Homo sapiens: one gene and its partners. The protein of the gene in region 5 purifies or fractionates together with the protein of the main gene of each other region. This does not show direct contact. Each region holds a gene or a part of one and is shown on either strand. Other genes may lie near its edges.

The links.
Region 1: the proteins of HOXB1 (region 5) and MNAT1 purify together in Homo sapiens (affinity purification with mass spectrometry; one large-scale study listed by BioGRID and IntAct). This does not show direct contact.
Region 2: the proteins of HOXB1 (region 5) and ERGIC1 purify together in Homo sapiens (affinity purification with mass spectrometry; one large-scale study listed by BioGRID and IntAct). This does not show direct contact.
Region 3: the proteins of HOXB1 (region 5) and ZNG1A purify together in Homo sapiens (affinity purification with mass spectrometry; one large-scale study listed by BioGRID and IntAct). This does not show direct contact.
Region 4: the proteins of HOXB1 (region 5) and AIFM1 purify together in Homo sapiens (affinity purification with mass spectrometry; one large-scale study listed by BioGRID and IntAct). This does not show direct contact.
Region 6: the proteins of HOXB1 (region 5) and DDX19B purify together in Homo sapiens (affinity purification with mass spectrometry; one large-scale study listed by BioGRID and IntAct). This does not show direct contact.
Region 7: the proteins of HOXB1 (region 5) and HEATR6 purify together in Homo sapiens (affinity purification with mass spectrometry; one large-scale study listed by BioGRID and IntAct). This does not show direct contact.

What each region holds. Positions count from the first base shown.
Region 1 is NC_000014.9:60,741,261-60,744,760, reverse strand, and holds part of MNAT1 (CDK-activating kinase assembly factor MAT1), read right to left. Parts: intron 1-3,500.
Region 2 is NC_000005.10:172,924,751-172,928,250, reverse strand, and holds part of ERGIC1 (endoplasmic reticulum-Golgi intermediate compartment protein 1), read right to left. Parts: intron 1,743-3,500; coding exon 1,682-1,742; intron 1-1,681. UniProt on the Homo sapiens protein: Possible role in transport between endoplasmic reticulum and Golgi.
Region 3 is NC_000009.12:120,337-123,696, forward strand, and holds the end of ZNG1A (zinc-regulated GTPase metalloprotein activator 1A), read right to left. Parts: intron 3,119-3,360; coding exon 3,050-3,118; intron 2,947-3,049; coding exon 2,881-2,946; intron 1,755-2,880; coding exon 1,625-1,754; intron 1,238-1,624; coding exon 1,131-1,237; 3' UTR 501-1,130; downstream 1-500. UniProt on the Homo sapiens protein: Zinc chaperone that directly transfers zinc cofactor to target metalloproteins, thereby activating them.
Region 4 is NC_000023.11:130,155,842-130,159,341, forward strand, and holds part of AIFM1 (apoptosis-inducing factor 1, mitochondrial isoform AIF precursor), read right to left. Parts: intron 763-3,500; coding exon 620-762; intron 1-619. UniProt on the Homo sapiens protein: Functions both as NADH oxidoreductase and as regulator of apoptosis.
Region 5 is NC_000017.11:48,528,212-48,532,220, forward strand, and holds HOXB1 (homeobox protein Hox-B1), read right to left. Parts: upstream 2,801-4,009; 5' UTR 2,694-2,800; coding exon 2,117-2,693; intron 1,665-2,116; coding exon 1,336-1,664; 3' UTR 315-1,335; downstream 1-314. UniProt on the Homo sapiens protein: Sequence-specific transcription factor which is part of a developmental regulatory system that provides cells with specific positional identities on the anterior-posterior axis. Acts on the anterior body structures.
Region 6 is NC_000016.10:70,312,686-70,316,185, reverse strand, and holds part of DDX19B (ATP-dependent RNA helicase DDX19B), read right to left. Parts: intron 1,285-3,500; coding exon 1,231-1,284; intron 547-1,230; exon of another isoform or gene 218-546; coding exon 82-217; exon of another isoform or gene 44-81; intron 1-43. UniProt on the Homo sapiens protein: ATP-dependent RNA helicase involved in mRNA export from the nucleus.
Region 7 is NC_000017.11:60,068,922-60,072,421, forward strand, and holds part of HEATR6 (HEAT repeat-containing protein 6), read right to left. Parts: intron 3,409-3,500; coding exon 3,294-3,408; intron 1,887-3,293; coding exon 1,785-1,886; intron 928-1,784; coding exon 790-927; intron 1-789. UniProt on the Homo sapiens protein: Amplification-dependent oncogene.

The DNA of each region.
Region 1 (3,500 bases), on a different chromosome or scaffold from region 5:
CTAACAAAGACTAAAATCAAGCCCCAACAAGTTTTTGAAGGGATTAAAAATGTGAGGTTGAGTTACACTAAAGTAAGGAAACAATGGGTTCTCCACATATCATTCTAGCAAAGAGTAAAACCAAGCCTACACAAGTTCAAAGTTATCTGCCAGTAACTGAACTACCTGCAAGAATTTTTAAAATCAACACTTTTCACAAAAATACAAAATCCAGAATCTCTATAATATACCACCTACAATTAAAAAGTAGTAAACATGCAAAAATAAATAAGCAGAAAACTGTAACCTACAGTCAAATAAAAGCAGTCAATAGAAACCAACCCTGAGATGGCTGGGCGTGATGGCTCACACCTGTAATCCCCGCACTTTGGGAGGCCGAGGCACGCAGATCACTTGAGGTCAAGAGCTTGGGACCAGCCTGGCCAACAGGGCAAAACCCCATCTCTACTAAAAATACAAAAATTAGCCAGGCATGGTAGCAGGCACCTGTAATCCCAGCTACTTGGGAGGCTGATGCAGGAGAATCACTTGAACCTAAGAGGTGGAGGTTGCAGTGAGCCAAGATCATGCCACTGCACTCCAGCATGGGCAACAGAGTGAGGCTCTCTCAAAAACACAAACAAAAAAGAAACCAACCCTGAGATAGCCAAGGAGTTAACTCTTACAGACAGAAACCTTAAGATTGACTATCATAAATATTTTAAAGGAATTAATGGAAAATATGTTCAAAAAATTAAAGGAAAATGCATTCAAAGAACTAAAGAAAAATATATTCTTGATGAGTATATAGATGGGAAATATCAGAGAAATGAAAACTATAAAAAAGATAAAAATGAAAACTCTACGACCAAAACAATACAATAAGAAATGAAAAATCTATTGGATGAGATTAGAAATGGCAGACAGGCAACAGTGAACCTGAAGATAGATCAATAGAAAATATATAATCTAAAGAACAGGGAGAAAGAGATATGAGTAAAATTAACTTCTCAACAGAAACACTAGAGAACAATGAAATGATATCTTTTGTATGGTCAAAGAAATGCCAACCCATAATTCTATATTCAGCAAAAATATCCTTCAAACACTAGGGTGAAATAAAAACACTTTCTTATAAACAAAATCAGAGTATATTCTTCACCAACACACCTACACTATAAGAAATGCTAAGGAGCTGGGCGCAGTGGCTCACGCCTGTAATCTCAGCACTTTGAGAGGCTGAGGCAGGCGAATCACCTGAGGTCAGGAGTTCAAGGCCAGCCTGGCCAACATGGTGAAACTCCATCTCTACTGAAAATACAAAAATTAGCCGGGCATGGTGGCACACACCTGTAATCCCAGTTACTCAAGAGGCTGAGGCAGGAGAATCGCTTGAACCTGGGAGGCGGAGGCTGCAGTGAGCCGAGATTGTGCCATTGTACTCCAGCCTGGGCGACAGAGCAAGACTCCGTCTCAAAAAAAAAAAGAAATGCTAAAGAATGTTCTTTAGGCAGATGGAAATCAATATGACTATAAAATCAGATCCAAAGGAAGAAGGGCAATATCAAAGATAGTAAATAGGTGAAAATAAGAGACTATATTTCACCACTTCATACCCACTAGAATGGCTATAATCAAAAGACAACTATAACAAGCATTGGCAACTACATAGAGAGACTAGAGCCCTCATTCACTGCTATAAGATGGTACAGCCACATTGGAAAACAAACTAAACAAAGAGTTACCATATGATCCAATAATTCTACTCCTAAATATATACATGAGAGAAACAAAAACATTTGTCCATACGAAAACTTGTACATGAATGTTCACAGCAGCATTATTCATAACAGCCAAAAAGTAGAAATGACTCAAATGTTCTTCAACTGATGAATGGATAAAATGTAGTATAGCCATACAATGGAATAATATTCAGCAATAAAAAGAAATGTTGTACTCATACATGCTACAACATGGATGAACCTAGAAAATATTACACTATGTAAAAGAAGCCAGTCCAGAGAACCACATACTGTATGATTCCATTTATATGAAAGGTCCAGAATAGGAAAATCTACATAGTCAGAAAGTAGATAACTGGTTGCCTAGTGCTATGGGAGGGGGGAGTTGAGGAGTGTGACGGCTAAGTGGTGAGAGGTATCTTTGTGGGGTAATATGTACATCTCTGAGAATATACTAAAAGCCATTGAAACGTACACTTTAAATGTGTGAATTTTATGGTACGTGAATTATATTCAGTGAAGTAGTTTTTTAAAAACATACCTTTCCTTAAAGACAACTGACTGTTTAAAGCAAAAATAACAACAAATCACAAATACAAATAAAAGATATGCTGAAAGAAACCACTAATAATAATAATAACAATGAGGAGTTAATTGTTGGCCATAAAAGGTGACTGTAATCCCAGAACTTTGGGAGGCTGAGGTGGGTAGATCACTTGAGGCCAGGAGTTTGAGACCAGCCTGGGCAACACAGTCAGAGACTAGCTCTACAAAAAAAAATTAAAAATTAGCTGGCTGTGGCAGTGCACACCTGTAGTCCCAAATTCTGGGGTGGCTGAAGTGGAAGGATCCCTTGAACCCCTGAGTTCAAGGTTGCAGTGACCTGTGATAAAGCCACCACACTCCAGCCTGGGTGATAGAGTGAGATCCTGTCTCTTATTTAAAAAAAAATAAAAATAAATAAAAAATAAAAAGCTACCGGCTAATAGGCCAATACTTTAAAAAATCCAATTATTTCAAAATAAGGCAGGAAAGGAGCAAAAGAACAACAAAAAAACCAAAGGAATACAAGGAAACATGTAGACTTAAACCCAATGATATCAATAATTAGATATAATGGACTAGTACACCAATTAAAAGGCAGAGATTGTCAATCCAGATAAAATGGCAAGACCCAGTGAAGTAGAGTCTCCCAGAGACAGACACAAATTGGTTGAAAGTAAATGGATGGGGGCCAGGTACAGCAGCTCACTCTTGTAATACCTACATTTTGGGAGGCCCAGGCAGGAGGATCACTTGCGCTCAGGCGTTTGAGACCAGCTTGGGAAACATAGCAAGACCCCATCTCTACTAAAAATTAAAAAAAAAAAAAAAAAAAAAACCCCAGGCGCAGTGGCTCACGCCTGTAATCCCAGCACTTTGGGAGGCCGAGGCAGGAGGATCACGAGGTCAGGAGATCGAGACCATCCTGGCTAACACAGTGAAACCCTGTCTCTATTAAAAATACAAAAAATTAGCCAGACGTGGTGGCCCGTGCCTGTAATCCCAGCTACTCGGAAGGCTGAGGCAGGAGAATGGTGTGAACCTGGGAGGCGGAGCTTGCCGTGAGCTGAGATCGCGCCACTGCACTCCAGCCTGGGCAACAGAGCGAGATTCCATCTCAAAAAATAAAAATAATAAATACATAAATAAATAAATAAGCCAGGTGTGGTGCCATGCACCTGTAGTCCTAGCTACTCAAGAGGATGAGGCAGGAGGATCATTTGAGCCCAGGAGTTT
Region 2 (3,500 bases), on a different chromosome or scaffold from region 5:
TAGCCCTGGAGAAGGCAAGGTTTTCTGTCCACACCCTCTCTCTGCTTGCACACTCTGGGCCTTCTTAGCTTGATCCTCTTTCCTGTCCAGCAGCTGAGGGTCCATCGTAGCTGCAGACATTTGTGGACGGCCGACGTCGGATGACATGTTACCATGACACAAAACGACAATGACCACGGCACCACACCAAGAATCATCTACCTCTATTACAACCAGACATTTGCACTCAAATAAGGAGGTGCTGCCGTATACTTATCCGTTGCTGGAGGCAGCATGAATGGGAACCAGACACAGCTGGAAAGCAATCGGGTAACAGAGCGCCAACCCTGTACATATCAGAGGCATTATTGCCACAGTGAAACACAGGAAACGACAGACACTTTCGGTGAGAAGACAATGACTTAGAAAAGCAGAGCAGAGTGGGGACAGATCACCTGAGGTCAGGAGTTCAAGACCAGCCTGGCCAACGTGGTGAAACCCTGTCTCAACTAAAAATACAGAAAATTAGCTGGGCATTGTGGCAGGCACCTGTAATCCCAGCTGCTCGGGAGACTGAGACAGGAGAATTGCTTGAACCCGGGAGGCTGAGGTTGCAGTGAGCCGAGACTGTGCCACTGCACTCCAGCCTGGGTGACACAGTAAGACTCCGTCTCAAAAAAAAAAAAAAAAAAGCACAGCAGAGCTGCAAGATGGACAACTGTGCTCCCATTACAACTGGAAAGTAAGAAAATCGTGGCTATGTAATAAGGTCAAGTACAAAAAGCAGACGGTAAACTGCAATCCATGCCTTGGAAAAAAAGAAAAGTGAGTTCTGCTTATGGACAAGGACTCACAGGGACACAGAAAAATGAGGTTCGATTTGTCGGGGGGGCAGGTCACAGAGGGATGTTTTCTTTGCCTTGGATCCCTGACAATGGGAGAGCAAACGCATTTCAGGAAATAATAAGAAAAGATGTGGGTTAAAAGGTGAGCTCAGGTGAGGAAATAAGAAAAATCCAGGTACCCTGTGCAGCAGTGGGTCTGCAGGTCTGCTTGAGCACACAGGCCTCCCGGGCCCATTCTGTGCACGTGTCTGGGGCCATGTGAGCTCATGTGTGTTGGTGTGCACGAAAGGTATGCGTGCTCTCCTGTCTGCGTGTGGAGATGTGCGGTTCTCTTTGATCTGGGCCAAGGTGCCAGGGAGCTAAGGAGGGCGAGGACTCTAGGAGGAGCCACTATCGATGGGAGGAGTCTGAGCAGGAGGAGAGTGAGGTGTGGGGGAGGCAGCCATGTGGTCACAGCTGACTGGGCCACCCACAGACCTGTTCTCACGGTGCGACCTGGAGGCAGAACAGATCCTGGTTCTGCCATAGCTCCCTGTGGGATCTTAGGTAATTAGTTCAACTAAGGATGATGATGTGGCTGTGATGAGAGCAACAATAATGGTAATAGCTGGTATCCACTGCGTGCGTGCGTCTGCTGTGCCCCGGGACAAGCCTTCTTCCTTCTCCATCAGGGTCTGGGTCTGGACGGGGCTGGGTCCACCTTCCCACTGGTTAGCTGTGGGAATGGAGTGTGAGCAGCAGCCTCCCTGCCTTGGAGTGGGTGCTGGACAGGCACCCCCACCTCTCTGCCCTCCCCCTCCCTGCCTGCTGTACTGGGCATCTTGGAGCAGAAGGCTGTTCCCAGCAGGGATACATACGGTTGGAGGTGAGTCTGTCTGCTCCCCCGAGAGCATTGAAAGCTCCGTGGATGTTCTGGACCTGTGGAAAAATGCAGTGAGGGGATGGTCCCCAGGACACCTCCACCTCCAGGCCTGGCCCTGGTTGTGGGGGATGGCCAGGTACCACCTGGTCTAGGAACCCTACCAATGTGTAAAAGGGGGCTCCAGCGGATTTGTGGGGAGCAAGAGGCAGCAGGGGCCTGGCACATAGTAGGCACAAGCTTGTTTCCCATCTCTAGCCCCTACTATGTGCTGCTCCATCCTGGCCCCTTCATATAATTTCATTTCATGCCCCTAATGATGTATTATTGGGCCCATTTTACAGAAGAGCAAATCAAGGCTTGGAAAGACACCAAAACTTGCCCGGCTGGTAAGTGGCTAAGCTAAACTCTGAAATCAGGTCTGTCTGACACTAAGCTGGACTCTTTCCATGAAGTCACACAGAAAATTCAAGTGAACATGGATTCTGGGTCCCAGAAAGTTTCTCCTGAGATCCCAGGGTCCTCTGAAAGGCCCATAGAGGAGTCCAGGCAGGGATGCCCCAGAGCTGTGGGCCCCCCATCATGTCTGCTGCAGAGAACGTATAGCAGATGTGAAGAAAACCCTCCTCCGGGCAGTGGGGTGGGCTGCTGTAGAGTAGGGCTGAAAACCACATCTCACCTTTTCTCTGAGGACAATGGGAAACCAGGTTGGCCTCAAGGAACATCTAAAGAAGGACAAGGCATACCTGGTAAATGGAGCATGCTACCATGGGCATGGTTAACAGGGGTTATCGAGCTAGACACCCTGGAGGCCTTCCTGGAGGAAATGACATTGACACCAAGATCTGGAGGAAAGTGGGAAGTTAAACTGGCAAGCAGCATGTACAAAGGCTTAAGTATGGAGACAGGCCCACGTGGCCCCCAGGAGGAAGGAGAGTGAGGTGTTTGAATAGAAGGAAGGAGGAGACATCGGAGAGGTACGTGGGGACATGATTCTGTGGCCACTCCAGGAGCAGTGGGCAGCAGCGGGGTGGCATAATCCCTGATCCTGGTCTCAGGCGGCTGATGTTTACTGAGCACTTAACACACCTGCATGTTCTCAACAAGCAATTCCTCAACAACTGGAAGGAACTGCAATTTCTCAACAAGGAAAAGGAAGTTTGTCTATTTGCTGTCTTGAGACTGACCGTGTGAAGGCTTCATTTCTAACCCATGAGAACGGTGGTTACAGAGACAAGAAGGCTAGAATGTTCTCTTCCATTGTCATGTGACATGGCTTTATCTCACATTTATTTGTACCATTTATTTTTATTTTTATTTTTTCTTTTTTTGGGAGGAGTCTTACTCTTTCTCCCAGGCTGGAGTGCAGTGGCATGATACCAGCTCACTGCAATCTCCACCTCCCAGGTTCAAGTGATTCTCCTGCCTCAGCCTCCTGAGTAGCTGGGATCACAGGTGCCTGCCACCACGCCCGGCTAATTTTTGTATTTTTAGTAGAGACAGAGTTTCACCATGTTGGCAAGGCTGGTCTCAAACTTCTGACCTCAAGCAGTTCGCCCGCTTCAGCCTCCCAAAGTGCTGGGATTACAGGAGTGAGCCACCGCACCTGGCCTGTACCATTATTTGATCAACATCTGTCTTCCCCCCTAGACTGGAAGCTCCAGGTGGGCAGGGACCATGTTTGTCCTCACCAAGGTATGCAAGGCCTGGACACGGTAGGTACTTTGTAAATATTTGTTGACTAGATGGATGGACAGAAAATGAATGGATGGATGGGCCCTAAGCTAAGTTCTGTACATTTTTTTAAAAAAATCAGA
Region 3 (3,360 bases), on a different chromosome or scaffold from region 5:
TTTATATGAAGCTTGGAGGACAAATAACAGACAGGTTTGAGCCTAACAGATTTGTTTGAATCCCAAATTTACCAATGACTGCTTGTGTGACCTACTAAACTAAGCTCCAGGAGGGCCAGGCCAGGTGTCTTATTCAACCACAAAATCCCAGCGCCCCCAGCATGTGAGGCAAATTTCCTCCATCAGCATAGGAATCGGATGACCTGGGAAAGGGAGTATTGTTAGTTTTCCTAGCGCCAGCTTCAATAGGGATTGGGGTTATTTAAAAATACAGGAGAAAAGTAAGGAGGCACTCAAAAACAAAACACAAAACCCACATTGATGGGGGTATGTCAAAGGTGGGAACAGGAGATAACGGAAAGAGTTCCCAATGGTCAAAGCTGGGATAATTTGAGCAACAAAATAAAGCAGTATTAAATTGTAACCCAAAGTATAAAATATTCATGTGTCCACACTGATAAACATAAATGATCGAACTAATAAAGCGAAAGGGACAACTGTCCTTTGCAGAAGAATTTCAATTAATCATGTAGACCACTCCCAAGAAAGTACACTACAACTCCCCATTCCTTTAGTGTGGGCTGTGCATAGTGATTTCCTTCCAAAGAGCACAGTATGAAATGGGGGAAAAGAGTAACTTTACAATGGAGAAACCTGACAAACACTCCTTCAGCCAGGTGATCAGGTCGTCAACATCAACATCAATAACAGTCATAACCTTTTATTTCATGTCATAAAATGGTGACACTTACTTGTGTTAAAAAAATTTAATAACAATGTAATCATTATATCTCTGCAATCAGCTGAAGTTCTAAGAAAAAATGACAATGTTGAAAGTTGTATCATCATTATTATAAACTTTCATGTTCAGTATATGTAAACTCCAAAGCCAATTTCAAAAGATATTTTTGTGAAATACCATTCTTTAAAAAAAAGGATATTATATATAACTGTATGAATGTTAAATGTTTTACAGTACTGATTTGCTACATTTTATGTATGCTGTAAAACAAATACCATTTTAAAGTATATTGGAATTCGTAACTAAAGTAATAAATAAATGCTTGAAATATACCCAGTAGAAACTTATTTTTATTATCCAATCCTTTTGATAAGAAATGCCTCTAGTGTTATGTACAAACTTGATCTTCTTGGAAACGTGTTGTCCACTGCTTTTCTGTTTCTGTCACAGTAGCTATAAACAGCTGTTTAAGGATATCCTTATCTAAATTTCTGCCTGCAAACAAAACAAAATATGACGTGATTACATTATGCTTATTAAAATGACACAGTTCACCTATCAATTCCAGTTCATTAAATGCTTTATGGTGTTTAGAAATTTACAAAAAGAATAGTAATTGAGTGATTCCATCTTTAACTTTCCAGGTCAGTACATCAAAGTCACATTGGTCCTTGGATTAACCACTTTTCTAAAACTGAAGAAGAACAAAAGTCCTAACAAGCTTTTACGAACGTTGTAACGTGATAAAGATGAAACATTGACCACAAGCTTATTTAGTTTTAAAAGAGGACCTGAATGGTTAATCTGTTTAAGTGGCACATGATATCCCTTTCAAATATATTTTTCACTTTGTTTTAAAACTGTGAATCCTTTGAGACTTACCAAGGAGGACCAATCGATTTGTTCTCTCAGTGTCATCCTTCCAGCTCACTGGAGTCTCCTCCAGATCATAGAGCTCATGGACACCCTGGACAATCACTTGTTGTGATTTGTCTTTGATTGACACCAATCCCTGCTCAAAGGAGAATTGACTGAACATTAATCAGCCTCAGTTCAAACTTAAAAGCAGAAATAGAGCATCAATGTTAATGGATTAATTACTGATATTCACTTAAAAAATACAAACTCTTAAGCTGAGAAAATTACTTAATTCCAATTATTTGTGAATTACAAGAAGTTTCTTAATGTTTTTAATTTTCAAAAAAGGTTTCTGTGTATTGATTTTCTTTTTGAACAATCCCCTTTTCTAATGATAAAGTTAATACATATATTAGGATGGTTTTTCAGTGTTATTTATCACAACCAAAACCTGAAACAAAATGATGAAATATGTATCATATCCTATTGATTAAAGATTTTATATAATGTTTCACAGTTTTCGTGGGAAAAGTTGAGAAGTTAAAGGAGTTTGGTTATATTAAATAATTTGTTTTAGAAATGGGTTGCAATCAATGAACAATGATGAAATAAAGAAAAACTATTATATTTATCTGAATATGAGCTCATTGTGTATTGATTTGCAGAAATGAGAAACGAATTATCTGATAAACTGGCTCCTATGGGGATGAAATTAATTTATTTGAAATAATATTCTTAATTTACCAAAAACTTTGTGCACACTTGTGAACACACAAGAGTAGACACTCAACTGACTGGTTAAGCATACACTTTAGAATCACTGCTTCCTAGAAGAAATACCTTTCATGACTTAAATACCCAAATATCAAGTAACGTGAGTGGGTTTCTAAATACAGAACAAGAATTCTTCTAGTCCTTTGTAACTTTGTTTAGAGTATGACAAATGTTTAGTGTCTGCTAAATGCATCAGGAAGCATAATGTTCAGCAGAAGTGAGATTTGCAACATTATTTCTCTGTACTTGGGAACAGAGAGCAGAAGGTAACATTTCAAAGCACACAGGTTTGTTCTAGCTGCAACCCTAAAGAAAGTTGTGCAAATAAATCAAGCCTTATGCAGTGATTTCCAAAGCTCCTTTTCAGTCACGAAAATAATAAAGAAAAATGAAAGTAGACAAAGATGATTTGTACTAAAACAAGTGTTTCTGTTTAAAACCAAATATAGTTTTTATAACAGCCAAGAAAAGGACTTTGTCCGAAAGTCTGCAACAGTAAACTGTACCTTCAGCCTTATGACCTCCATGCAGTGATTGTCCTTGTTTCTCACATTCTTTTCCCACAGGAGATTCTGTATCAAGTGACATATTTTAATAAGACCAACCATCGCTAATAGCAACAACTATGTAACAAAACCATTGATAAATCATTAATCAGTTAAAAATTGCATTCACCTGAATAAACATATTAAGATGTTCTTCCTTTGCATTTCCTGGTACTTCAAATGTGATTGTAACAATACTCTGTAAATCAAGGGAAATAACAATAATTCTTTATAGTAATATCAATGTTTTTTAAATCACAAATTTTAAGATGAAAAGGAACATATTCATGGAATTTTACATTGCTTAAACCATATATATTAGGTATTATACTTTCCTCAGCATATGTGCTGTTTTTTTGGAATTAGCAACTCCATTTCCTACATTCTGCACAGGTACCAATGGATTTAGTATTTACACAAACTACTACCTTGTATTTTAAA
Region 4 (3,500 bases), on a different chromosome or scaffold from region 5:
AAGCTGATCGGAGTTCATTTAAGGAGATATAATGGTGCTAATACTACATAGCAATTAAACACCATATTTCTCACCTCAAACAAACTCCATTCTAAAATCAGTGATACTAGCCCTGTTTCTGTAATTTAGTCTTTGGGTAAGATTCAGGGATAGCTTTCCTTTTAGGAACACTTAATATTTTTGATTGAAGGCTGTTGTTTTTTTAATGTGAACCTCAAGCTGAGGAAATAAAATGTCTGACAAATAGGTCAAAATCAAATATTGTGCTAAGGAGCTGCAATGGATTTTGACTTTATTCACAGGTTAGTGTGTGACATCCAAGAAAACAGGTACAATTTTGTGGGTTACTCGAATCTAGGAAAACATAGTGGCTTTCAAGTAAAGAAGAAAAAGACAAGTGAAAAGAGCAGAAATCAATCAACATGAGATTAAATTTCAGTCATTCCAGAATTGGCTCCCATAAGATATTAGGCAGCAGGCACTTAAGAGAAGGCTTTTTGAAAATTTTTCCAAAAGGAGAAAGGGGAATTAGTTGCAAAAGTTTTAAAGCAGAATACTATCGAGTCTATTAATGGGAGCTGTTTGGCAGCTTCTTTATACACGCTGCTTTTCTACTTACATAGGCACCAGCTCCTACTGTTGATAAGCCCACAATAAGGACTAACACAGAATTATCGATTTTGCCCCCTGATGCACCAGAGCTAGCCATTTGTCTTGTCATCTGGAGTTCTAGAGGAACATGCCATCGCTGGAACAAGTTGCCTAAGAAACATAATTTATTAAGACACACACATACAAAAATAAAATAGTTAATACATATTTATGATTAAATGTCAATGCACTGTACAAGACTTATTGCCCACAGATATTCACCGTTAAATGATCAAGAAAAATATCATCAAAACTGCATATATAAATACTACAGACAGCTGAATGAACGCTCTTAAGTTGCTGAAGTTTTTAAGAGTAAAATTTAATGCTGTCCAGTGAGAAAATTTTCAGCTTCCAGAAAAGATCATGAAAAACACGAACAGTTCATCAAATACCTCTTCCTTCATGTCTTTCCCATAAATTAAGTAAACACAGAGAGATGACTGAATAGGTAGATATACAAAGTTAACCATGGGCTACCTGGGACATTATAACAACCATTTAAGGAGTAATCTAGATGGTTCCAATCTTGCACAAAATAAAACGCAACACTCTAACCAGGACACAGTTCAATCTTGCATGAAAGGTAATGTGTCCTGGAATACAGAAATGTTAAAGCTCAGAAGAAAATCAGAAAAAAAAATTTTAATGAGTTTCTCTCCCCCAAAGAACTAAAAAATTTTGGACTATGAAATATTTTTTATAATGACAAAATGTGAAGTGTCCAGCAACTCCTTGACTCTTACTCCTCCAAAATAATACAAAGGTTATTTTGACGTAAAACTATGCAGAGCTATGTAATGATGTGATGATCATAACAGCACCTGTACATAGAAATATAAGAGTTCTGTAGATTTCTTTTTCTAGGGAGACGCTGACATTTTCAGATAAAGGAAGGTCTCAGTCTCTGATTATTCTGTGATTACTCCTCGTGTTTGTTGACTATCAACCTAGAGCAGCAAATTTTTTCTGCAAAGAACCAGATGGTAAATATTTTCAGCTTTCTGGGCCATTTGGTGTCTGCTGCAACTACTCAATTCCACTGATGCTGCATAAAAGCAGCCAAAGACAATACATAAATGAATGGATGTGGCCATGTTCCAATAAAACTTTATGGACACTGAAGTTTAAATTTTATATAATTTTCATGTGTCACGAAATTCTTTTTTTTTTCAGCCGTTTAAAAAATGTAGGTCAGGCGTGGTGGCTCACGCCTGTAATCCCAGCACTTTGGGAGGCCTAGGTGGGCAGATCACGAGGTCAAGAGATCGAGACCATCCTGGCCAACATGGTGAAACCCCGTTAAAAATTAGCTGGGCAGGTGTGGTGGGGCATGCTTGTAGTCCCAGCTACTCGGGAGGCTGAGGCAGGAGAATCGCTTGAACCCGGGAGGCGGAGGTTGCAGTGAGCCGAGATCGCACCACTGCACTCCAGCCTGGCAACAGAGTGAGACTCCGTCTCAAAAAAAAAAAAAAAGAAAAGAAAAAAGACCAGGTGCAGTGGCTCACGCCTGTAATCCCAGCACTTTGGAAGGCCGAGGAGGGTGAATCACCTGAGGTTGGGAGTTAGAGACCAGCCTGACCAACATGGAGAAACCCTGTTTCTACTAAAAATACAAAAAATTAGCCGGGCGTGGTGGCTTATGCCTATAATCCCAGCTACTCGGGAGGCTGAGGCAGGAGAATAGCTTGAACCCAGGAGGCGGAGGTTGCAGTGAGCCGAGATTGTGCCATCGCACTCCAGACTGGGCAACGAGAGCGAAACTCCATTTCAAAGAAAAAAAAAGAGAAAAAGAAAAAAGAAAAAAAATGCAAAACCCACTCATGGCTCCTGGGGCATACAAAAGCAGGTGACTGACTGGCTTTGGCCTGTGGCTGTAGTTGGCAGACCCCGATCTAGAGCAGTGGTTTTCAAACTTGAGAGTGTATCCCAATGCCCTGAAGGTTTTATAAAACAAAGCTGGCCAGGCCCCAGGCCCAGAGGTTCTGATTCAATAGATCTGGGATGGGGCTCAAGAATGTGCATTTCTAACAAGTTCCCAGGGGATGCTGCTGTTGCTGCTGCTGCTGTTAGGGTGGGGACCACACATTGAGAACCATCTGTCTAGAGCAGGTATATCCTATCTTTTGGCTTCCCCGAGCCACATGGGAAGAAGAAGAATTGTCCTGGGCCACATATAAAATACACTAACACTAACCATAGCTGATGAGCTAAAAAAAAAAAAAAAAAAAAAAAAAAAATCGCAAAAAAATCTCATAATGTTTTAAGAAAGTTTACAAATTTGTGTTGGGCTGCAGGTTGGACAAGCTTAGTCTAGAGGCTGATACTTATGTCCCTGTCCTGTCTAGGCTTTAAAAGACAAACAGAATGGACACTGGTAGTAGCATCCCATGTATACTTGCAGAGATTAGAGAAGGAATTTCCCCCTTGCTTTCATAACGTTAGGCCACAGACGGGTAAAAACAAGCCCAATGTGGATCTGTGGTCTCTCATCTGAAATCCTGGGGACCATGTATAATTTGGAACTTTGAATTATCTGGTCTTAAGTATATGGGGCATATACCACATAGTGACACCTAGCAAGGTAAAGGGCAGCAATTCATAGTTAAACATATTAATATGACCAATCACGCTAAGTGATATTTTAAAAAGATTATAAAGTAGCCTCTCTCCAGTTCAGGTCAGGTTTTACTGGCAAATGAGTTATGAAAACTTGATAGTCTTAAATTTTGGTCATTCTACAATTTCAATTTCTGAATTACAGATAAGAGACTTTAGATCTACACTCTTAGAAAAGGAAATGTATTTTTCTTTACTGTTCTTCTTACCTGCTTTTAGAACTCTTCATC
Region 5 (4,009 bases):
AGCAAGAAAGAAAGAAAAAAAGAAAAGAAAAAGAAAAATCTCTGGGAATTGCATTCATTCCACAGACTTCTTCCATGCTTTTCTGGATTCTCCCAATAACCAAGGGACTGACAACTGTCAAGCCTGAATGCCTGGGACCCAATCCTGCTTAGGCCACACCCAGTAAGTCCTTCTCTTTATCCAGCTGAGATCTTAAAGCTCAGTTCATTCCAGCCCAACCAGCCAATGGCCACTCTTTCTTCACCTCTTCTCCACGGTGCACGGAGTATGAGGCCTCTTCTACCCCTGAATGGAGAAACAGAAGCAGGCAGGAAGAAGGGAAAACACAGACTTTATTGAAATGAGGTAGTTGCAGGTACAGAGAGAACCCGGGCTCACTTGGGGCTCAGGTTTCCAGAAACTTAGATGGCTCCTCCTCTTTCTCAAAGGTTCAGATAAATCCTTGCAGCTGTTGGGAGCCCTCATTGTGCCTGGCTCTCCCTGGGCTGCCCCCAGGGGTAGGGGTGGAGATGGGGAAGAGGGTCCTGGGTTTTCCAGGAGGCAATAAATAGGGGAGGAGCTAGTGGGGGCGTGCCTGCACCTTCCTGGTTGTGGCTTGCTGGGGGCAGGCCTTGCACGGCGTTCCAGAAGTCTCTGGAATACCAAGTTCCAAAACACTTTGGTGACATAGTGATGAGGTCGCTGGTGTGAGGAGGCAGGTCTCAGAAAACAACCTCTGAAGGCTGCATTAGTGCAATATAAATATGCCAGGAGAGGGCTAATGGGGTTAGATGGGGGCGGGGGGCTTTTTGGTCTGTCACAAGGCAGCTGGTGCTATTGTAAGGTCTGTGGTGACTGGATTAAGCATTGATAATAATATGGCTGCACCCAAACACCTCCCACACAAGAAAATTTAAGGTTCTGTGTCAGGCCTAGAAGGGGGAGTTAGGATAAGAGTGCGTGAGGAGACTCCTCAAAGCTCGAAGGCACTGAACCGAATAAACCCAAGTTGGAAGGGAAAGGAGGATGAATCCAGGAGGATGAGGCTGGCCCCCACCCCCACCACATGTTGACACTGAGCTGATCCCCAGATCAAAGGCAGAAGCCCTTCCCTCTACATTTGACAGGTTCCATGCCTCCCAGGCCTCTGGTCCTGTAGGGCCCCCAGCCACCCAGGTCTGAGAAAAATGTTTCCCCATCCCCCCTCCCACCCCCAGGCAGCTCTAAACTGGCATTTCAGCCCTAGAGAGGATCCCCAGGCCAGTGAAGCCCAGGCCTGGGGTTGGGGAGAGCCTGGGATAGGGCTGGACTGGGGCGCTCCAGTGCCTGGAAGCCCCATTGGTGGCTAGGTTCAGTTCAGGAGGTGACAGAGCTGGGTGAGGCTTCCGGGGAGGTGCATGTCGACTGGTCTGAGGCATCTCCAGCTGCCTCCTTGGGGCAGCCTGGTGGGGCTGGGGGGACCCGACCTTCCTCTCGCTCGCGCTTCTTCTGCTTCATTCGTCGGTTCTGGAACCAAATCTTGACCTGTGTTTCATTGAGCTCCAGGGTGGCGGCAATCTCCACCCTCCGGGCCCGGCTCAGGTACTTGTTGAAATGGAACTCCTTTTCCAGTTCTGTCAGCTGCCTTGTGGTGAAGTTGGTGCGGAGGCCACTGGGCGAGCCCAGGCCTGGCTCTGACACCTTCGCTAGGGGCGGGGCAGGGAGAAAGGCCAGGTCAATTCTCTCACCTCTTTCTCCTTCCGCTTCCCTCCTCCCGGGGCTGGCTCTGGACCTCCATTTGCCATTCTGCCCAAGTACAGTTGTCAAAGTTCCCAGGGACCACCAGGTACCCCCATGGTGATCACCAAGTCTGGAGCAGCCTTCCCCATACTTCCATCCCCCATGCACACCAGGTCCTGGGTCTGTGCTGGGTGCACAGATCAGGAAGTGGGGTGTGTATGGAAACTTACTCCTGGGGTGACCGGTTACATACTGGGTGGGGAGACCTCACCTGACCTGAGACGTAGGTTGTGCTCTTACCTGTGTCTACCAGAGCCGCTGAAAGAGAAGAACCCAGCCCAGACCCAGGACATGTCACTGCAGGGGAAGCAGAGATGCTTTGGGCCCCGGAGAAGGGGTGGCCACATCTGAGCCCTACCTGTCTTGGGTGGGTTTCTCTTAACCTTCATCCAGTCGAAGGTCCGGGCCGTGGGGGTGTTAGGTTCTGAAGGGCAGGGTGTTTCCTTGTCCTCGGAGAGGAGATCAGCATAGGCCGGTGCAAAGCTCGCGGTCTGCTCGTTCCCATAAGGGGGATGCTGCGGAGGATATGGCCCCGGACCGGCTCCACCTGCTCCGTAGCCATCGGACAAGCCCCCTAGCTGGGCCCCGTAGCTCGAGGGATGAAAATAGCCTCCGTCTCCTTCTGATTGACCCAGAGGGTAGTACTGAGAAGGCCCGTAGCTGGGGCTGCAGGCGGCAGGAGCATACCCCGAGGGCGCGGAGCTGGGGAAGGGCACCCCCAGGGTCGAAGGCGGCTGCTGGGCGGGATAGCCGGAGTTCTGCTGAAACGCAGGGCTGGACAGCCCCCCACCGTAGCGGCCCTCGCTTGCATAGCTGTCAACCGCCTGAGCCGAGCTTGGGGGAAAGGAGGTTGGGGCGCTGTGGGCGCTGTAGGCGCTGGGTCCCCGGTTACAGAGTGGGTACTCTAAGAAGGAGTTCATCCTATTATAGTCCATGCGTCAAGGCCGCAGGAGGGTCGGCCCGTTTGGGGGAGACACCCTCTTGCCCTACAACCTTTCGGCAGTATGTCACAGCGCTGGGGCTCGAATCCATGGCCTGACCCGCTCGCCTGGGCAAGCGCTTCCCTAGGAAGGGGGTAGGGAGTGGGGGTGAGGGGGCACATGTGATCTCTCCCAGGCCAATGGGCTAAGCGGGCCAGAGTTTGGCAGCCCCAGCGCCCATCCATCACCCCCCAAGCATTAGCATGACAAAGACACTTCAATCACCCGCAGCCCATCCATCTGAGAGCGACATGGAAGCGTCAAAAACATCTTTCTTCAAAGACTTTTGGAAAGAAGGGACCAGAGGGAGAGGGGGAAAAAGTTAGGAGAATATTCAAGACTTTCCTTCCCTCCCAACCCCCAAGGCCTTCAATAGGCTCCTGGGTTATTAGATTTGGACAAATTCAAGCCAGCTGCCCCTCACTCTTCCCACCCCTCAGAGAAACCTTCCCCCTAAGTCTGTGGACCTGGAGGTGGGGAATCCAGCTTCCATACTTTGCCCAGAACTCCCAAACCATGTTCCTTTCTTCCAATTTGTCTTAGGGTGGTGGGCTAGGACAGCCGGGTGAGGTATGTTATCTTGGGCCAAATGGATGACTGTGTGGTGGGGAGGTGGGGGAAGGTGGTGCAAAAACACCTAAGGGTGTGGGGCAGGATCTAGAATCTAGAGGAAGAATTCATGAAGCCAGGGGTGGGAAATTGGCATTTCAGGGAGCAAGGCAGGACTACAGAAATGTGGAGAAAAGGATGAGAAATGCCCCATCTTCCCTCTCTCTCTCTTTGCATAAATGTTCTCTCCTCATTCACACATCCATTTCTCTCCCTCAGCCTCTCTTTATATTCTCTCTGTCTCAATCCATCTCTCTGTTCGTCCATCTTTCTCCATATTTATATTCGTTCCCTACCTCTCATCTCTCTAGATGTATTTATCCTCTCTCTAGCCATCCATAGCTGTAGCTGGCTCACTCACTCAGACTTAAATAACTCCCTATATCTCTCTAGAGAGCCACAATGAGCACAGCCAGGTGATGTTTACAGCGGGGTGAAGAGGAGGGGAATTTTTTATTCTCTTCTTGAAGTGTTTAAAACTAGTGGAGACCTGCATTCTCCTGGTTCCCTCCTACCTGTCTCTCCTTCACCACCCTCCATCTCCTTCCAAAAAAAAAAAATTTCCAAACCTCAAATGCATAAATTTAATACCAGTTAAATCTTAAAGATTCCTCCAGATTTCAGTAATTTTTCTAGGATTGATAAAGGGAGTTTGGTCAGAG
Region 6 (3,500 bases), on a different chromosome or scaffold from region 5:
TGGTCAAAAGATATCTATAACAGACCTAGGATCTCTATTTCAGTGCAAAGGGGAAGAGTCAGAAGGTGAATAAATACTCACAGCCGAAGCTCTTCAAAAGACTTCACCGAGTACAGAGGGGAGTTTGGATCCCGCTGCAGGACTTCCACTTGGTTTGTGTTATCAACAAGGTTGCTTCTGATCAGCTTGTTGAGTAAGGACTGGGCAGCTCTGTCCTCTGTCAGGAAAAAGAAAGCAAAGAATTTTAAAAAGTCCTTGAAACCTACCAGGCGTTTACTCTAATTCAACTGCCATTTGTATTTTAAATAATAATGTACTGAACATTCAAATTCAAGGTACGTCATAGTTTTGACTTATAAATTAAAATAGTTTTATTAAAGAAAAAAGTTATGATACATCACCCATTTAGGCCTCATATTCTTTTCCAGACTCTATTCTAACAGCCCTCTTTTCCTGCAGTTATCTATTCCTCCTATCCAGACCCACATATTTACTCCCCAATTTGTACTATATATAAACCTAAAGTAATTAATGTAGCAATCACAACAATAAAAAAAAAAACAGGAATTAACAAAGTCTGTACCTTAATATTGGACAAGTTGGTCTCGTCATCCATGTCAAATGTGTCAAAATAACATTAAGCTTAATTTTACTGGACAATAGAGATGCAACTGAAAATTTTTTATAATGCCCTATTCAACTGTTCAGTTGTTAAATGTAAAATTTCTCTAAACGTAAACCATTAGAACTCCTTCACCTACTGACTATTTATATTGAACTTTTTTTTTTTTTTTTTTTTGAGACAGAGTCTCGCTCTTTCGCCCAGGCTAGAGTGCAGTGGCTCGATCTCGGCTCATGGCAAGCTCTGCTTCCCGGGTTCATGCCATTCTTCTGCCTCAGCATCCCAAGTAGCTGGGACTACAGGCGTCTGCCACCATGCCCGGCTAATTTTTTTTTTTTTTTTTGTATTTTTAGTGGAGACGGGTTTTCACCGTGTTAGCCAGGATGGTCTCGATCTCCTGACCTCGTGATCTGCCCACCTCGGCCTCCCAAAGTGCTGGGATTACAGGTGTAAGCCACCGTGCCCGGCCCCTATATTGAACCTTTATGCTAGCACTGTATCGCCTATTAAAGTCAAGCCAAACTGGGTATAAAAATGAAGCCTCATAACAATCCACTTTCTTAGAATGTAGAAGCTTGTTATTATATAAAGCTCCACGGCTGTGTTACCTTTCTCTTCTTCATCTGTCTTCTCTGCATTGGCATTGGTCTTGACAACAGCACCTTTATAGACACAAAGTGGCCATCATTCAAAATCGCATCCCATACCCAACAGTTGAGACAATTCAAATTCTATGACACTAGAAGTTTTTGTAAAGGCCTGGGGAGCAAAAAATAAATGAGGAAACCGAGCCGCTGATAAAAACATTTTATTGTCCCTAAATAAACAAAGGTGTAAAACACTGTTGCTCACATATATATATATATAGATAGATATTTATTTTATTATTTATTTATTTTTGAGATGGAGTCTCGCTCTGTCGCCCAGGCTGGAGTGCAGTGGTGCGATCTCAACTCACTACAAGCTCTGCCTCCCAGGTTCACGCCATTCTCTTGCCTCAGCCTCCCGAGTAGCTGGGATTACAGGCACCCGCCACCACGCCCAGCTAATTTTTTTTGTATTTTTAGTAGAGACAGGGTTTCACCATGTTAGCCAGGCTGGTCTTGATCTCTTGACCTCGTGATCCGCCTGCCTTGGCCTCCCAAAGTGCTGGGATTACAGGCGTGAGCTACCGCGCCCGGCCTCTGTTGCTCATATTCTTTCCTATTCTAGGTCTCCTCTCCGTACCTCAAAACCTGTTATTTCCCTCATTGAATCAATACTTCTTAAATATTATAGAAAGATTAGAGCAATTAGTGATCAGAAACCACCTTGATGCTCAACAGAGGAATATCTATGCAAATCGTATTTTATCAATAGGTGAACACAATAATGCCATTAAAATTCATGTATATAACAAATGAGCAGTAAGACCAACAAAAAAAATTCATGCATATAAATTTTTTTTTTCTTTTTTTGAGATGCAGTCTCACTCTTACCCAGCCTGGAGTGCAGTGGTGCGATCTCAGCTCACTGCAACCTCTGCCTCCCAGGTTCAAGAGATTCCACTGTTTCAGTATCCTGAGTAGCTGGGATTACAGGGGTGCACCACCACACCTGGCAAATGTTTGTATTTTTAGTAGAGATGGGGTTTCACCATGTTAGTCAGGCTGGTTTCAAACTCCTGACCTCAGGTTATCCGCCAGCCTTGGCTTCCCAAAGTGCTGGGATTACAGGTGTGAGCCACCACACCCGGCCTATAAATTGATTAATATAAATTTATAGTCGAATGATACTGTGGTTATATAAAATCATACAAAAAAGATTTAAGTGAATTTTGAGAAAGGCAAATGTTACATTTCCTTCCTGTAATATTAAGTACATCAACAATAATTTAATGGAAATCTTAACTTTGGATAAATATGATTTCAGAATAATTAGGATAGGTAAACTGTCAGATTGCTCATACTTTGTCTATCTCATCCCAAATTGAGAACATTAAGAAAAAAATTAGTCTTTGTCAATGTAGTCCGATGGTTAGTAATTAGTCCCACTTAAGTAGCCTCATTCTTTGTTCCCCCCACACCCTTGCTATCAGTGTGCAATCCTCATTCTTGTATTAAAAACACTTTGAAACCAGGTGTAATATCTCACTCCTGTAATCCCAGCACTTTGGGAGGCTGAGGCGGGAGGACTGCTTGAGCCTAGGAGTTAGAAACCAACCTGGGCAACACAGGGAGTCCTCATCTCTATAAAAAAACAAAAATACCTGGGCACAGTGGCTCACACCTATAATCCCAGCACTTTGGGAGGCCAAGGCCGGTGGATCATGAGGTCAGGAGATTGAGACCATCCTGGCTAACACAGTGAAACCCCATCTCTACTAAAAATACAAAACATTAGCCAGGCGTGGTGGCAGGTGCCTGTAGTCCCAGCTACCCGGGAGGCTGAGGCAGGAGAATGGTGTGAAGCCGGGAGGTGGAGCTTACAGTGAGCCGAGATCGAGCCACTGCACTCCAGCCTGGGCAACAGAGCGAGACTCTGTCTCAAAAAAATAAAAAATAAAAAATAAAAATTAGTTGGGCGTAGTGGGTTGTGCCTGTAGTCCCAGCTACTCAGGAGGCTGAGGTGGAGGATCACTTGAGTCTGGGAGGTTGAGGCTCCAGTGAACCATGATTGAACCACTGCACTCCAGCCTGGGCAACAGAGCAAGACCCTGTCTCTTAAAAAGTAAACAGAAACAAAAAAATAAATAAAAACACTTTGGTCATACAATCCAGTTTGTTGATTTACAAATCAAATGGTACCAGTATCTGCCAATGCCCTGCCTGGTACAAATACAAATTTTTTTCCAGACAGTTGTTATGCCAAAACAAAAATACTGAAGGAAATCACATTT
Region 7 (3,500 bases), about 12 Mb from region 5:
TCAAACTCCTAAAAGCAGCCAGAGTCTATATACTTAGTGCTTAGCACAGCGTCTGGAACACAGCAGATGTTGGGTAAATGCTGAGTGAGTGAATGAGTGAAATAATTTCTAATAAGAAGCACTTTGATCAGGTATGACATTTCTGGAAGTGAATCCTTGGCCATACATCTGTATGCTCCAGGTTCTCCAACCAAAGCACGAGGGAGATGGCAGCTTCTGGAAAGGCTGGGAAATCAGGTGAATGTAAGGTGTGGAGATGGTGCGCTGACTGGTAGGTGGGCTTCTAACAGTCTAGAGTGGGGTTGGCAAATTATGGCCCAAAAGCCAAATCCAGCCCAGCACACAGCCTGCTTCTGTAAATAAAATTTTAGTGAAACACAGTCATGCCCATTCATTTACATAGTGTCTATGGCTGCTTTTGCACTGTTACAATAGAGTTGGTAGTTATGACAGAGACCTGAAGTATTTACTAGCCTAGTAGAGAAAGTTTAGAGAACGTTTGTTGACTCCTGGTCTTGAGCATCATGGGGATGAGAATGCTTGGTTTGGGGTATAAAGTGAATGCTCATTTTTATAGCTGTTATACTGACTACACCTCTAAGAAGTATAAGATGCTTTAATTGGTATTTTGAGCATCAGATGAGTTTAAATTTACTATGCTAACAACCCTAAACTGAAATAAAATTCAAGGTAGGCTTTTAGGGTAGTAGTGATGCAAATCATAGAAAACACACACAACAATCTATTAAAAATAAGCCACAACTTAAATCTAAATAAACATAAATGTACCAAAGTTGGTCGAGAAGCACTGGATTCTGATTGCTGTGGTTTGATAGGTGTTCGCCCATCATACTGAGGAAGCGGAGTTGGGTATAACACCGTGGGCATCTCTATGTTTAGTCCAGGGAGTCCGTGAAACATGAATTTCTAATAATGATGAATAAGGACACACACACACACACGAAACCAAAAAAACCATTAATCATAAACCATTAATCATAAAATAGAACTATTTACCATGTCTGGATCACAACACTCATAGATAATGTTCAAAAGCCTACTAAGGAAATATAAATGAGATAGAAAATAGATACCTTGAAGGCATAGGGCTTAAAGAAGAGCTGAAGTTTATCTGGCCTCCAGCTGGATTTGGTTTGGTCAGATCAAATCAGGTCTGGTTTTAGTTTCCTTATTTATTTATAAAATTTATCCAATTACTTTATCTGTCTATAATTTTTTAAACAAATTTATCATTTTTATTTACCTATCTCCACCTATAGCTATCTCTCTATTTGATGTGGGAGCAAGAGAATGCCACAAGGAAAGAATTACTTCTTACTTTGCTGGCTGAAGAAGCTGGGTCCCCAGAGATGCTGGCCTGACTTTCCGACTGACTGGCACGCTCGGAAGCTGCCCATTGACACACGTCTTGGTTGGCCTGTCTACTACTTGGAGGAGAAAGCCAAGGAGAAGCACTGGCTCTTCTTGTACAAACAAGTACAACATAGTCTATAATTAAATATTCTATAGGTCATACTCCCCTACCGATTCCCTTCCTAAGATTCATAAATAATTTTAAAATTTTGATGCATTTATTAAATGGAGATTTATTTTCTGTTCTTAATATTAAGTGTCTTTGAATATGAACATTTTTGTCTACTCTCTCAAAATATATGTAAGAACTTTTAATACCTCAAAGTTAGCCTTAGAATAAGGATGTAAAGTGGTCCTTGTACCATGGGTTGAAACAGGAAAGACAATGATCATATGAAGACTTGCCTTACCTTTAGCACAGCTAAAAGTGCTCCAAGTTCATCAGTCTGTGTTAGTTTCATTCTCCCACCATTTAGAAGTGACTGTATACCTTTTAATGCATTTTGCAATAACTAGGGGGAAAAGGGAGACCCAGTTAGAAGGCAGAATAAAATCTGGTTGTCCAGGAATCAACTTACTAGCACCACTTAGGATGGAAGAGAGACAGTCTCTAGATGATGAAAAAAAACTTTATTATAGACACACATATACACACACAAAGCAGAAATGAAGATCTAAGGAGACCTAATAAACTACCATGAATTCTTTTCTAGAAGAAAAGAATAATGAAGTGGTCTTATTGTACATGTTTATAAACCACTATGTACAAATGGTGAGCAAGAAAAAAGAGAGAAGATGTTTAGCAAGAAAAATGTGACAAGGGATAAAAAAGATAGCACAGATCAGAATTGGGAAAGCTCTGTAATATGGCAAACCCAGCCCTCTTAAAAGCAAGGGGATGTATGTGGGAACTGCTGATAAATTATAGAAACTTGGTTTCTGGAGGGCAATTCTGACCAAGATTGATTTCTTGACTCAGTAATCTCATTTCTAGAACTCTCTCCTTAAGAAACACTTCCGACATTGGGATGATGTGAACTGTAGCCTTGTTTGAAATAGTGGGAAAATTTTAAAAACTTCAATTTTGATGATTATGATAATGATTATAAAAGAAGCTAACCCTCTGCTAAATGTAAAACTCAACAACAATAACAGTAGGCCCTTTGAATGCTTTATTTCATATACTTCTCATAAGAACCCCACAATGTGGTTATATCAGTCCCTTTTCAGGGAGGAACACAGAGGCTCCAAGAAGTTAACTAACTTGTCCAAGGTCTTCCAGCCATAGCAGTTAGAAACTATGAGGTATATTAACAGGAACCGAATAGATGTCCCAGAGATATTAAGTTTTAACAAAACAAGAAAGTTACAAAACAGCATGTTAAATATGATCCCACTTAAAGCTGTAATTATGCTCATTTACATATAGAAAAAAAAATCTGAGGGCACACAGCACAAATTGTCTTCAGTGGCTATATCCGAGCAGGAGACTAGAAGGAACTTTATCTCAGCTATATAACATTTGAAATGTGTTACTCTAAATTTAAAAGATGTTAATAAACTGTCGTTTGCATCGTATTTTTAAAAAAGAAATAAAATATTGCAGATATATTTGGTGAAATCTCTCTTTACTTTCATCTTAAAGATAGTCACTAGCCTGCAACTATTGCTTTTATACTCAGAAGGAAAAAGAATAGTTTCCTCTAAAAATCTAGAATTGCAAAATATAACAAATAAAAAGCTTCTTATAATTTAAACCGAAATGGTATGATTTTAGTCTTTTTAGGTTACAAACATTTCATATATGTGTATTTCTCTAGACGAAGCTAATGGTGCAAATTAAACTCGTTAGTAACACTTTTCCAATCTGCTTCTAGACACATCCGCAACATTCACTACGTCAATGATAGTCCACTTACCATGCAAAATGTGATATCATCCATATCAGATGATTTTGGAGACTGTAAAATAGTCAGAAAAGCTTGGAAACAGACATTTTGGTAGGGCTCCTCCAAATACGGCTGTCCTGGCACACTAAACGCATACAGAGAAAACAACTCAAACTCAGTCTCCTTTAAAATGAGGCTTGCAAAAGACTAATTAAAAATAGCAGTAATATAGACTAT